2 separate regions of the Homo sapiens genome follow, and region 2 is linked to region 1. Evidence: fine-mapped expression QTL. A gene starts in region 1. The other region holds a variant in brackets. All regions are shown on one strand. Distances are from middle to middle. Region 1 holds the start of MYO18A (myosin XVIIIA). Region 2 holds the start of LOC124903967 (a long non-coding RNA gene).

Region 1 (5,363 bases):
AGGAGAGAGTAAACAAACTAGACACTCAGAGCTACCAGGCACCAGGTCATCAACTGTTCAAAGTTCAAAGCTCCCAAAGGAAGTGACCGCCAGCCTGTGGCCCCTCCCATGCCCACCCTCCACCCCCACCTACAACCCTTCTCATTCCCCTAATCCCTCAACACAATAGCTGCCCCCAAAGCCATGGTTTTCCTGGAATTGAGGCCACAACCCCCATGTCCTCAACCCAAAATGGACAAGCACACCTCCACCCGAGGCTATATATAACCCGTCATGTCAAATCCAGAAACCAGGAGGATGTTTCCTGGAAAGACTTCATCACAAAAAAACAGAGAGGAAGCTGAGGAGGTGGGAAGCCATGGACAAAGAGCCAGTGAGGCTTGTCAGGAAGCCAGAGACCTCAGGAGAGCAACTTTCAATATCTCCAGATAGAAAGTAGCCCCTGAACTAAAAAGGGTGGGGAACATTAGGCCAGGCCTGTTGCCACAACAACAGGGCACCAACCTGCTCAAGAAAAGGGCTCCAAAGCACAAGGGAAAGGCGGCTGATTCAATGGGCTCTGTACTCACCGTCCTGCTCAGGTGATCTTGCTCTTAATCACCCAGGTGGCCTCCCCTCCCTTCCAGCACACCCCAGTGCATACACACTTCCCAGAGCTCACTTGCCACAGGGGCACTGATGAGGCCTTCTCGGCCACAGACACGCCAGGGGCTCCAAAAGACAAGACGAACCCACACTAACTAGCCCAAGTCATTGGCAGGGTGAAGCAGGGAGGGAATCCAATTCTTTAATTCGGGGTGGCCATCTGAGGGAATGAAAGCCCTAGCCAGGACAGTCCCTCTCAGGAAGCATTCCCCCAGCCCTCCCCACACAAATACAAACTATGAGGCCAGCGCCAAACACATGCCCCATTGGCAAAGTGGTCAGGCAAAATGAATACCCGCTCAAAAACAAACTGGCTGTCTTCCTCCCCATCTCCCCCACCCCCCACCTCTAGCTCATTCTGGCCGCAACCTTTCCAACTAATCAGCAAGACACATGTGCCTTGCAGTAGGGCAACTCCCCCATCTCCACCCCCAAAACAAAGCCCCAATGCCTGGCCTGTCCCTGCGGGCCTTATCGCACCCAGGAACATGACCCACACTCCTGGCCGGGTTTGGGACCAAGGAGCGCACCCCCACTAACAAGGGGCAGGGTGAGGGGGCAGCCACCCCTACCACCTCCCCTTCCCATTGGCGAAACAACTGGCATGACAGGTTAGCAGGGCGGGGCGTCGGGGCGGTCTCTCCAGAGGCCTGGGGCAGCTTGTCCGACCTTCCCACACGCACCCCACCCCTCTGCAGGGAAAGGTGAGGTGAGCATTCAGTCTCAGGGCACAGCCTGCACTCCCTAATCCCCAAAGCCTGCCACCATTCACCCTCTCATCTTCTGTCCCAAGAGGAGGGGGCCCAGGGAAGCGGGGTCTCCATTGTTTTGCCAGCTGTCTAGCAGCTGCTCCTTTGAGAGGAGCCCGCAGTCTGCCCGGCAGTGAAAGAGTGAAGGCCGCTGGGAGGGATAAAAGGGTCGGTAGAGGTGCTCCCCTTCCCCGCTGCCTTCCTCAGCGCCCCGCTCTCTCGCTCGCTCCATCGTGGGGCCTGGACGGGGGCAGGAGAAGTCCCCCCACCCTCGAGGCTGCAGCCCCCACCCCGCAGCTCCGGGCCACCTGGGCGCCTCCAAGCCCCAAATCCCCCCACACTGAAGGCCACCCTGTCCTGCCTCCCTGCGCCCCCCAGGTTGGCTGGAAGGGCCGGTGGTTCCCCCTTCCCCGCCGCTCCCGATCGGCCCCCACCCCCGGGCGTCGAGCTCCACGGCGCCGCCAGGGACGGGAGCCGGGAGTCCGGGCCGCTGCTTCCAGGGGACGGGGGAGGAGGAGGAGGAGCCGGCGGGCCCCGCCGCCCGCCCGCCCTCCCTCCCGGCCGGAGCCCGCCCCGCCGCCCCACCAAGCCGGGCCCGCCACCGAGCGGCCGCCGCCGCCGACCGGCACTCACCGGCCACCGGAGCCCGCCCGGCAGGCAGCAGAAGCGGAGACGCGGCATCCAGCAGCCTCGGCCCGGTCAGGGATGGAGCAGAGCGCAGCGCGGCGCAGCTCAGCGCCGCCCCCAGCGACCGCGCAGGCCGAGCCGAAAGGGAGCTCCCTGCTGGCGGCTGTGGGGATAAACGCCCGGCCTGCCTGGCAGCGCCAGTGCGCGCCGCCAGACGTGGGCCAGGCGGGCCGGGCGCTGCCCTGGCAGCCTCCGTCCGCTGTGGACTCCGAAGCCCCTCTCGCTGTGTCTGAGAGAGGCCCTGCCTGGAGTTTCTGTCTGCACTGGGCACTGGAGGCTGTCCGAAAAGGGTCCGAAAGGGGCTGAGTGGCACTGCCTAGGACAGGCACCAGGGTCATGATGAACGTATAGAAGAGGGGCTGTCCAAGGCAGGCACCGAACTCTGCAGGCTGTGTTCAAGGTAGTGCTGTCTAAAGGAAGCAATTAAGTCTTACTGGCCGCCTCCTCCCAAGGTGGCTCTGCAGAGGCACACACAGGGCCCTGCTGGATGGTGCCCCAGGCTCAGTCCAGACCAGGTACTGCCTGCCATGTCCGAGATGGCACTGCCAGAATGCACTCCCCAAGGTAAAAACAGACTCCCAATAGCTTGGTCTGATACAGCCCTGCCTCAAAATGGAGTGGATCAAGAGGCGTACCAGGGCCCGGGAGCCATGGCTGTAAGTGCCACTCACTCCCTAAAGGAGTTCACCAATGCCAAGATTAACACTTTCAGAAGCTCTTTGGAATGCAGTCTGTCCCTGGGTCCACTGTGTGCTGTAAATATCAAGTGAGCTGCTGTACCCACCAAGAAGACAGTTTATACTTCCTGGGAGAGGCCAAGGGACATCCAGATACCAGGCCTCCAAGATAGGTGCTATGTCTAGAGTTTGGAGAAAGAAAGAAATGGGGACACTTCCCTGGGCAGTGTCCATGCTGGAGTGGGGTGTGCCAGAATGTGGAAGAAACTGAGTGGGGTGGTGCAGGAAGAAGGGTGTAGCAGACAAATGCTGCTACCTCCCTAGACAGCCCAAACAGGAACTTCTCCAGGCAAGGGCAGCCCAACCTGACAGACCAGGGAAGGCTGGAGCAAGGAGGCTCAGAAAGCAGAGAGTTGAGTAAGAGTTAGGGAGTTCCTGAGGAATAGACCCAGGCGGGATACACATTTTGGAATAACATGCAACTCAAATTCAATTTAACAAACTGCCTGCTAAGTGCCAAGTGCAGCCCCAGGCACTTGGGGTGACACAGAAGGAGATCAGACATGGCATATCTCCAGGGAAATCACATGGGGAACAGGTAGACCTGAGCTGTGACAGTAGTAGGGTTCACCATGCTGGCATTACTTGGATGATGAGATAGGTGCTATGATGGGAGGCTTATTTGGCTTGAGGAGTGAGAAGAGCAGCTTCAAAAACATGACATTTGAGGCCAGGCATGGTGGCTTATGCCTGTAATCCCAGCACTTTGGGAGGCTGAGGTGGGCAGATCACTTGAGGCCAGCGTTCAAGACCAGCCTGGCCAACATGGCGAAACCCCATCACTACTACAAATACAAAAAATTAACCAGGCGTGGTAGTGCATGTCTATAATCCCAGCTACTTGGGAGGCTGAGGCAGGAGAATCTCTTGAACCTGGGGAGCAGAGGTTGCAGTGAGCGGAGATTACACCACTGTACTTCAGCCTGGGCGACAGAGCAAGACTCTGTCTCCAAAAAAGAAAAAAAAAAAACCCCAAAAACATGACATTTGAGCGGAACCTTGCAGGCTAAGTAGGACAACGACTATCATTAGTGTTTCCTGAGTACCTATTATATACTAGACACTATCTCTACTCCTCACAATGAACCTATGAGGGAGACATTATTATTATAGATAGGGGTTGAGTGCATGGACTCTGGAGCTGGATTGCCTGGATTCAAAATCTCAGTTCTGTAAAGTACTAGCTGTGTTACTCTGGGTGATTTTTTATAAATCACCTCTCTGTGCTTCACTTTGCTCATCCAAAAAATTGGGATAATAACAGTGACTCCCTCCCTCAAAATTTGTTTTGAAAATTATATAAGCTTAGTCTTTTCAACACATGGGGCTTTTCAACAAACTGGACATCCACATGCAAAAAAAAAAAAAGGGGGGGGTCTAGACACAGACTTTATACCCTTCACAAAAATTAACTCAGAATAGATTATATACCTAAATGTAAAACACAAAACTATAAAACTGTCTCCTAGAGGATAACATAGGAGAAAACCTAGATGACCTTGAGTATCACAATGACTCTTTAGATACAACACCAAAGGCACCATAAAAGAAAGAGCTGATAAGCTGGGCTTCATTAAAATTAAAAATGTCTGCTCTGCAAAAGACTGTCAAGAGAATGAGAAGACAAGCCACAACTGGGATAAAATATATGCAAAAGACATCTGATAAAGGATTGTTATCCAAAATACGCAGAGTTTTAAAAACTCAACAATAAGAAAATGAACCACCCAATTTAGAAATGGGCAAAAAACCTGATCAGACACCTTACCAAAGAAGATATACAGATAGCAGTAAGCAAAAGAAAAGATATTCAACACTGTATATCATTAGAGAATAGCAAATTAAAGCCAGGTGCGGTGGCTCACGCCTGTAATCCCAGCACTTTGGGAGGCTGAGGCAGGTGTGTCATGAGATCAGGAGCTCGAGACCATCCTGGCTAACATGGTGAAACCCCGTCTCTACTAAAAATATGCAAAAGACATCTGATAAAGGACTGTTATCCAAAATATGCAAAGAGTTTTAAAAACTCAACAATAAGAAAACCACCCAATTTAGAAATGGGTAAAAAACCTGATCAGACACCTTACCAAAGAAGATATACAGATAGTAGTAAGCAAAAGAAAAGATACTCAACATTGTATGTCACTAGAGAATAGCAAATTAAAGCCAGGTGCAGTGGCTCACGCCTGTAATCCCAGCACTTTGGGAGGCCGAGGCAGGTGGATCAGGAGGTCAAGAGATCCAGACCATCCTGGCCTACATGGTGAAACCCTGTCTCTACTAAAAGAACAAAAATTAGCCTGGTGTGGTGGCATGCACCTGTAGTCCCAGCTACTCAGGAGGCTGAGGCAGGAGATTCACTTGAACCCAGGAGGCAGAGGGTGCAGTGAGCCGAGATTGCACCACTGCACTCCAGCCTGGGTGACAGAGCAAGACTCCGTCTCAAAAAATAATAATAAATAAAAAATAAAAGAGAATAGCAAATTAAGATGACCATGAGGTAAAACTACTTTATTTACCTAAATTTGGATTTTGGCCAAAATCC
Region 2 (5,363 bases), 41 kb before region 1:
ACAACACTTGCCCATTCTGATTCCCAGGGACATGGTACAAACAAGGGAGGTATAATCTCTAAACCTGCTCACAATAAATACATAGTGAACTCAATGCCTGGGTTTGCAGGGAGGGCAAGGACACTGAAATTGCTTAGTAGCTCTTCGTGAACAATAGCCACAAAATGCATCATCCTCTGGCCTACCCATTCCATCTTCAGGAATGTATGTCCAGTGAGCTGACTTAAAGAAAGAAAAAGAAAAAAAACGCAAAGATTTTTATAGATGCACTCTATATAACAGCTCCAAATTGGAAAGAGCCCAAATGCCTAGAATTAAGAAATGGTTAGGTACAACCCGTTGTTGTATTGCCATTTAAACTGACAAATGTGTGGACAATGTAACCATATGGAAAGCTCCATATAAAATGACATCAATCAAAAAAACTGGAACCCAAATAGTATACAAACAGTGATCATAATAATCTTGTAAACTGTGTGAATTAGACACAACATGAACACCTGGTATTTATTTTGGTATGTATTTGTTACTTACTGCTTATTTTTATTGTGAAGATGGCTAAATAGTCAAAAAAAAAGCAAAGGAGATAATAGCTAGAAGCATTTGTTCTCAAAGAGGAGAAATCCAAGAAATGTACTGAGGGACTGTCAAGCCTCAGCCCCAGGAGGCTTCTGACACTCTGGGAGCAGCTGGGGTTTACCCTCCACCATGCCAGCAGAGCCTACCCGCCCTTAACCTGCACTCTCTGGGCCCCTCACAGGAGGGAATGGGGGCACAAATGCTCCTGGGAGAATAATGCCACGCCTCAGGCAGCCCCTCAGGCCTGGAATGCCTGGCCTGGACAAATGCTTTGAGGCCCAAGCATCCACACCAGACATCTGCACACTGCAAGCCCCCGAGAGCAGCAGGTAACTCTCAAGAGAGTGCCCAAAGGAAGCTGAGACGTAGCTGGTGGCCGAGGTCACTTTCCCGCCTCGCCGCTTCTGACAGCACTCACACACCGGAGGCTTCTCCTTCTGAGGACCAAGAGGCAGGGCATTCTCCTCTCCTCCCTCTTTCCCATTCAGAGGCACAGAGGGCAGCTCCCAGGAGACTTCTTCCTCCCAGTCCCAACCTAGCACCAACTTATCTAGGGATTGAGGGCGAGGAAGGGTGGCAGGAACAAAGGAGAAGGGAAGAAATACTAGCATAATAGTAAAAAACGGTTAATCATTATTGAGCATTTGGTATGTGTCAGGTGCTGTGCTGAATCCCTCACATGAATCATCTCATTTGATCCTCACAACATCCCTCTGAAATAGATACTAGTGTGACTGTGTGACTGCTACTTTACAAATGAGCAAAAGGAGGCTCAGAAGGTCAGGTGACTCGCCCAAAGCCTCACAGCAGCAAGTGGCAGATCTGGGACTCACACTCAGGTCTCCTGCGAGAGCCCTCCACTGCTCACTTTAAGGGATGGAGGCACGCCCTGCCCTCCATTTCCCCTGGTTCACCTGCACTGTTGTCCTTCTACATCAGCTGCCAGAAGAGCAGCTTGGGAGGAAAGCAGGGGTTCCCAATGATGACCCGCCCCTCCACCCACCAACCTGAATATGCTTTACGTGGAACTGCTTGAGAGGAAGGGAAGCTCTCTAAGGAATGAACTGAAGGCCATGCTGCCAGACAGCGGGGGAGGGGGAGATGAGCTTGGCAGGGACAACCTGGCCCTTGCAGTCCAGCCTCCAGCCAGAGCCCTCCCCAGCCCCAGGGCGGAACAGAAAGCAGCCGGGCACCCGCCTCACTGCAGGCCAGCCCAGAGGAAGCAGGTGCACTGGAATGGCTTCCTGCCGCAACTGCAGTTGCAGAAGGGTCTTGGTTTCCTCCTCCAACGACTGAACCTGCTGGAGGCCCCCCTTCCCTGGGGATGCTCACTGCCCCTCTGGAGGGCACTTTGCTGTCTGCTTGGATATCACTGTGCATGGCCCTAAATCTGTGACCTGGTGCTAGTGGCCCGGGGGTGGCTGGGGGAGAGTACCCTAGACCAGGAAGCGCCCATCTCTCAGGGTGAGGAGCTCTCTCTGACCTCTCCCCCACCCCCGGGCATACTGCCCACACAACTCAGCCCTGGTGCCAGTTTGGGGGCTGAGGCAGGGCAGTCCTGAGCACAGAGAGATACAAGTACTCACGGGTACATCTCAGGCTCCTGATGCACCTCCGCACCAGGCCAGCCCACGTACTCTGCCAACTGCTGACACAACTGAAAACCTTACCCTTGGTGGCTGGGAGGGGTAGAGTCAGGGGAAC[G/A]GGAAGGACTGGGAGCAGCTATGTCTCTCCTCACTTTCTTTTTTAAGGAACTTACTTATCTGGAGTAATCTCTACTAAAAAAGAGACTTAGGGCCAGTCAGAGCATCCCCAACACGCCATCTGTGCCCCTTGCAAGTGTCCTATGCACAGAAATGGAGGTGGCCATGCTAAGACTACTCTTGGGGACAGCGAGAAGGGTGCTCCCTGACAACTCCAAGGACCATCCCCTCTCAAGGAGGAAGAGAGGAAAGAGCTATACCAGCAACAAAGCAGAGACAAGACTACCGAGGACCTTGGGTGCTGTGGGGCTGGGGCTTTGGAAGAAAACAGTGTTCTAAGGAATGAAGGCCAAAAAAGCACTAATGGTTGGTGGGGAAGGCGTGTCACAGCCTTGGGGGTGGATGCAACCCCAGGAAACTGAGGTTCAGAAGACAGTGCCCCTCCAAAACTCCTGAAGTCATGAGTCAGGCCCAGGATGCCCTGCTCCTAGCCACGGAGGGGTTTTGAGGCTTCCGGGGCTGAGTAACTCCCTTCTTACCAAGAAGCTCGGAGAGGAGCCCCAAGGCTGCCCCACCCCTCTCCCCACCTACTTCAGCCACATCTGGGGAAATCACAAAAAGGTCCCTCCTTTCCTAAATGAGGAAATAGCATGAGGAGCCTGGGACATTTCCGGGGTGGGGGGTCAGAGGGACACTCACCCGCATGGCCTGGCCTGGAGCAGCCCAGAGCAAGGAGACTCCGCTCTGATGCTGCTCTGGCTCCGTTAGCAGCTCAAAATAGCACAGGCTGTGGCCCCGCCCAGTTCCCGCCCTCTCCCCGGCCCCTCCCGTCCCGAGCTGCCCAGCCCTAGTTGGAGCCAGCAGCCCGGAGGACTTCGGGTATCAGGTATGCCAGGAGGGAGAGGGTGATACAGCAGTGTGTGTGGAAGGGAAGGAGAAGGCTCTTAGGGTAAAGCCATTGGGGTGGGGGGCAGGCAGTGTTAGGGGGTTAGGGCAAGGACAGGGAGGGTGAGACTTGCCTATGGACACACACCCCAGCTCCGGGACAGCTGGGCTGATATGGCTCCTAAAAATAGCAGAGGAATTTGAGACCTGCAGCCCCCGGCCCCACAGGCCAAGCTTGAGACAAGCACATGCGCACTCATGTGCATGTACACGTATACACACACACACACACACACCAGCATGCACGAACATTCAATCAACACAGTGTTCTTGAGAACACCCAAATCATAGGCCTACCCTAGCCATCTAATTACTGCGGCAGAGGCCAAGACAGCCACTAACGTCACATCCAAGACAGCACACGGGGCCCACTGCACACTGTGCCCAAACAGCAGCCGCAAAGCAGTCCTGTAAGGTCTGGCAGGAGCAGAGACCCACACGGGCAGGCCCACTTACTGCCCCACTGCCATCAGCACACAGGGGACATGCAGAGAATCAATTACACTCTCTTTGTTTACATCCCTCTCCCCTCCACAGACGCCAGGGACTGCACAGGCAGAGAGGAGGGTGGGGTGGGCCTCAGCCCTGCAGACAGAGGAAGTCATGGGTGTCTAGCCAATGAGTGATGGCTGCCTGTGAAAAGCCAGTGTTTCTTGTGAAGAGAAATCCTGGCCTGGCTCTCCAGTTAGCACCATGGGATGCCTAGACCAGGACTAGGGACCCGCTGAGACGCTGAAATGGGAGCTGGAGAACAGAATGTCAAGGGGCCAAAAGACAGGGAGAGCAAGTCTCAGAAGCCGTCAGCTCTGCAGAAAAAAGGAAACAGTCATTGCCTCCCTCTTCCTCTTTAGGAAAAAAAAAAAATGGGGTGGGGGTGGTGCTAGGAAGCCCTGATACAGAACCGCCTCCTAACCAGTCTGGCATACACCCCATGCTTCTTGCCCCTGGCCAGCTCTAAGGGCCATTGGTTCTATACATTGTCTGACTTTCTCCATGAAAAGATTGGTAAGCACTGCCAGAGAGGATGGAAACCCAGCCCTGCCTCCTACCTGCCATGCGCTGTCCAAGTCTCACTGTCATATAGTCACATACACAGACTCTTAGGACACGGCGCTTGTGTCCTGCTCTCTAGGGAGTGGGATGTCCCCCCAGGGGAAGCATCTGGCCCTTCTGAAGCACGTGCAGTGTCACAGGTCTTCACATCTTCAGTGGCTACTTAGAACAATGGTGCCAGCCTCAGCTGCTCACTGAAATCCACTGGGGAACTTGAAAAAAATACTGATGCCTGGAGCCCACCCTTTCCCTCTCAGTTTCTGACATAATTGGTCTGGGAGCAGGGGCCTGGGCACTGGGATTTTTTTGTTTTTGTTTTTTTTTGAGACGGAGTCTCGCTCTGTCGCCCAGGCTGGAGTGCAGTGGCGTGATCTCGGCTCACTGCAAGCTCCGCCTCCCGGGTTCACGCCATTCTCCTGCCTCAGCCTCCCGAGTAGCTGGGACTACAGGCGCCTGCCACCATGCCCGGCTAATTTTTTGTATTTTTAGTAGAGACGGGGTTTCACCGTGGTCTCAATCTCCTGACCTCGTGATCCGCCCGCCTTGGCCTCCCAGAGTGCTGGAATTACAGGCGTGAGCCACTGCGCCTGGCTGGACACTGGGATTTTTTATTGATAAAAGCTCCCCAGGTGATTCTCACATGCAGCCAAGGCTGAGAACTGCAAGACTCTAAGGCCAGCATAAGGCCTAGCACAGAAATGTCCATTTGTTAAATGAATGAGTGAATGAATGAATGATTTAGCTGTGTGAACACAGGCAGGTGACTTAAATTTCCCTTATCTGTAAAATGAGGATTACACCTTTACTGACTCTTACCCAACCAGTATGAGACTGGTACATAATGTATGTGAAAGGGCTTTGGTTCTCCAAGTTCTCAGGCCAGCAGCGTGGGCATCCCCTGGGGACTTGTTGGAAATGCAAATTCCAGGAACCCAACCCAGACCTGCTGAACCAAGAACTCTGGATATGGGGTGCAGCATCTGTGTTTTAACTAGGCTTCCAGGTGATGCTGAGGCACATTAAAGTCTGAGAAGCACGGCTTGAAAGGAATGATTCACAGCATACCATGGTTAGGAGTATGAC

What was found. PIP is the estimated chance that this variant, and not a neighbour inherited with it, causes the effect.
Region 2: its variant is fine-mapped to the expression of MYO18A in whole blood (TOPMed, PIP above 0.99).

Annotation. Positions count from the first base shown.
Region 1 is chr17:29,178,286-29,183,648 of GRCh38, forward strand. MYO18A (myosin XVIIIA) reads right to left here and starts at 2,113. Exons shown (of 42, transcript NM_078471.4): 1 at 2,028-2,113. RefSeq lists silencers at 1,787-1,836, 1,957-2,006, 1,972-2,192.
Region 2 is chr17:29,137,359-29,142,721 of GRCh38, forward strand. All of the region lies in intron 2 of MYO18A (myosin XVIIIA), which reads right to left. LOC124903967 (a long non-coding RNA gene) reads left to right here and starts at 3,116. Exons shown (of 3, transcript XR_007065693.1): 1 at 3,116-3,168. RefSeq lists enhancers at 361-1,344, 1,345-2,328, 2,021-2,070, 3,271-3,360, 3,511-3,560 and a silencer at 2,761-2,810. The variant G/A (reference allele first, on the strand shown) is at 2,284.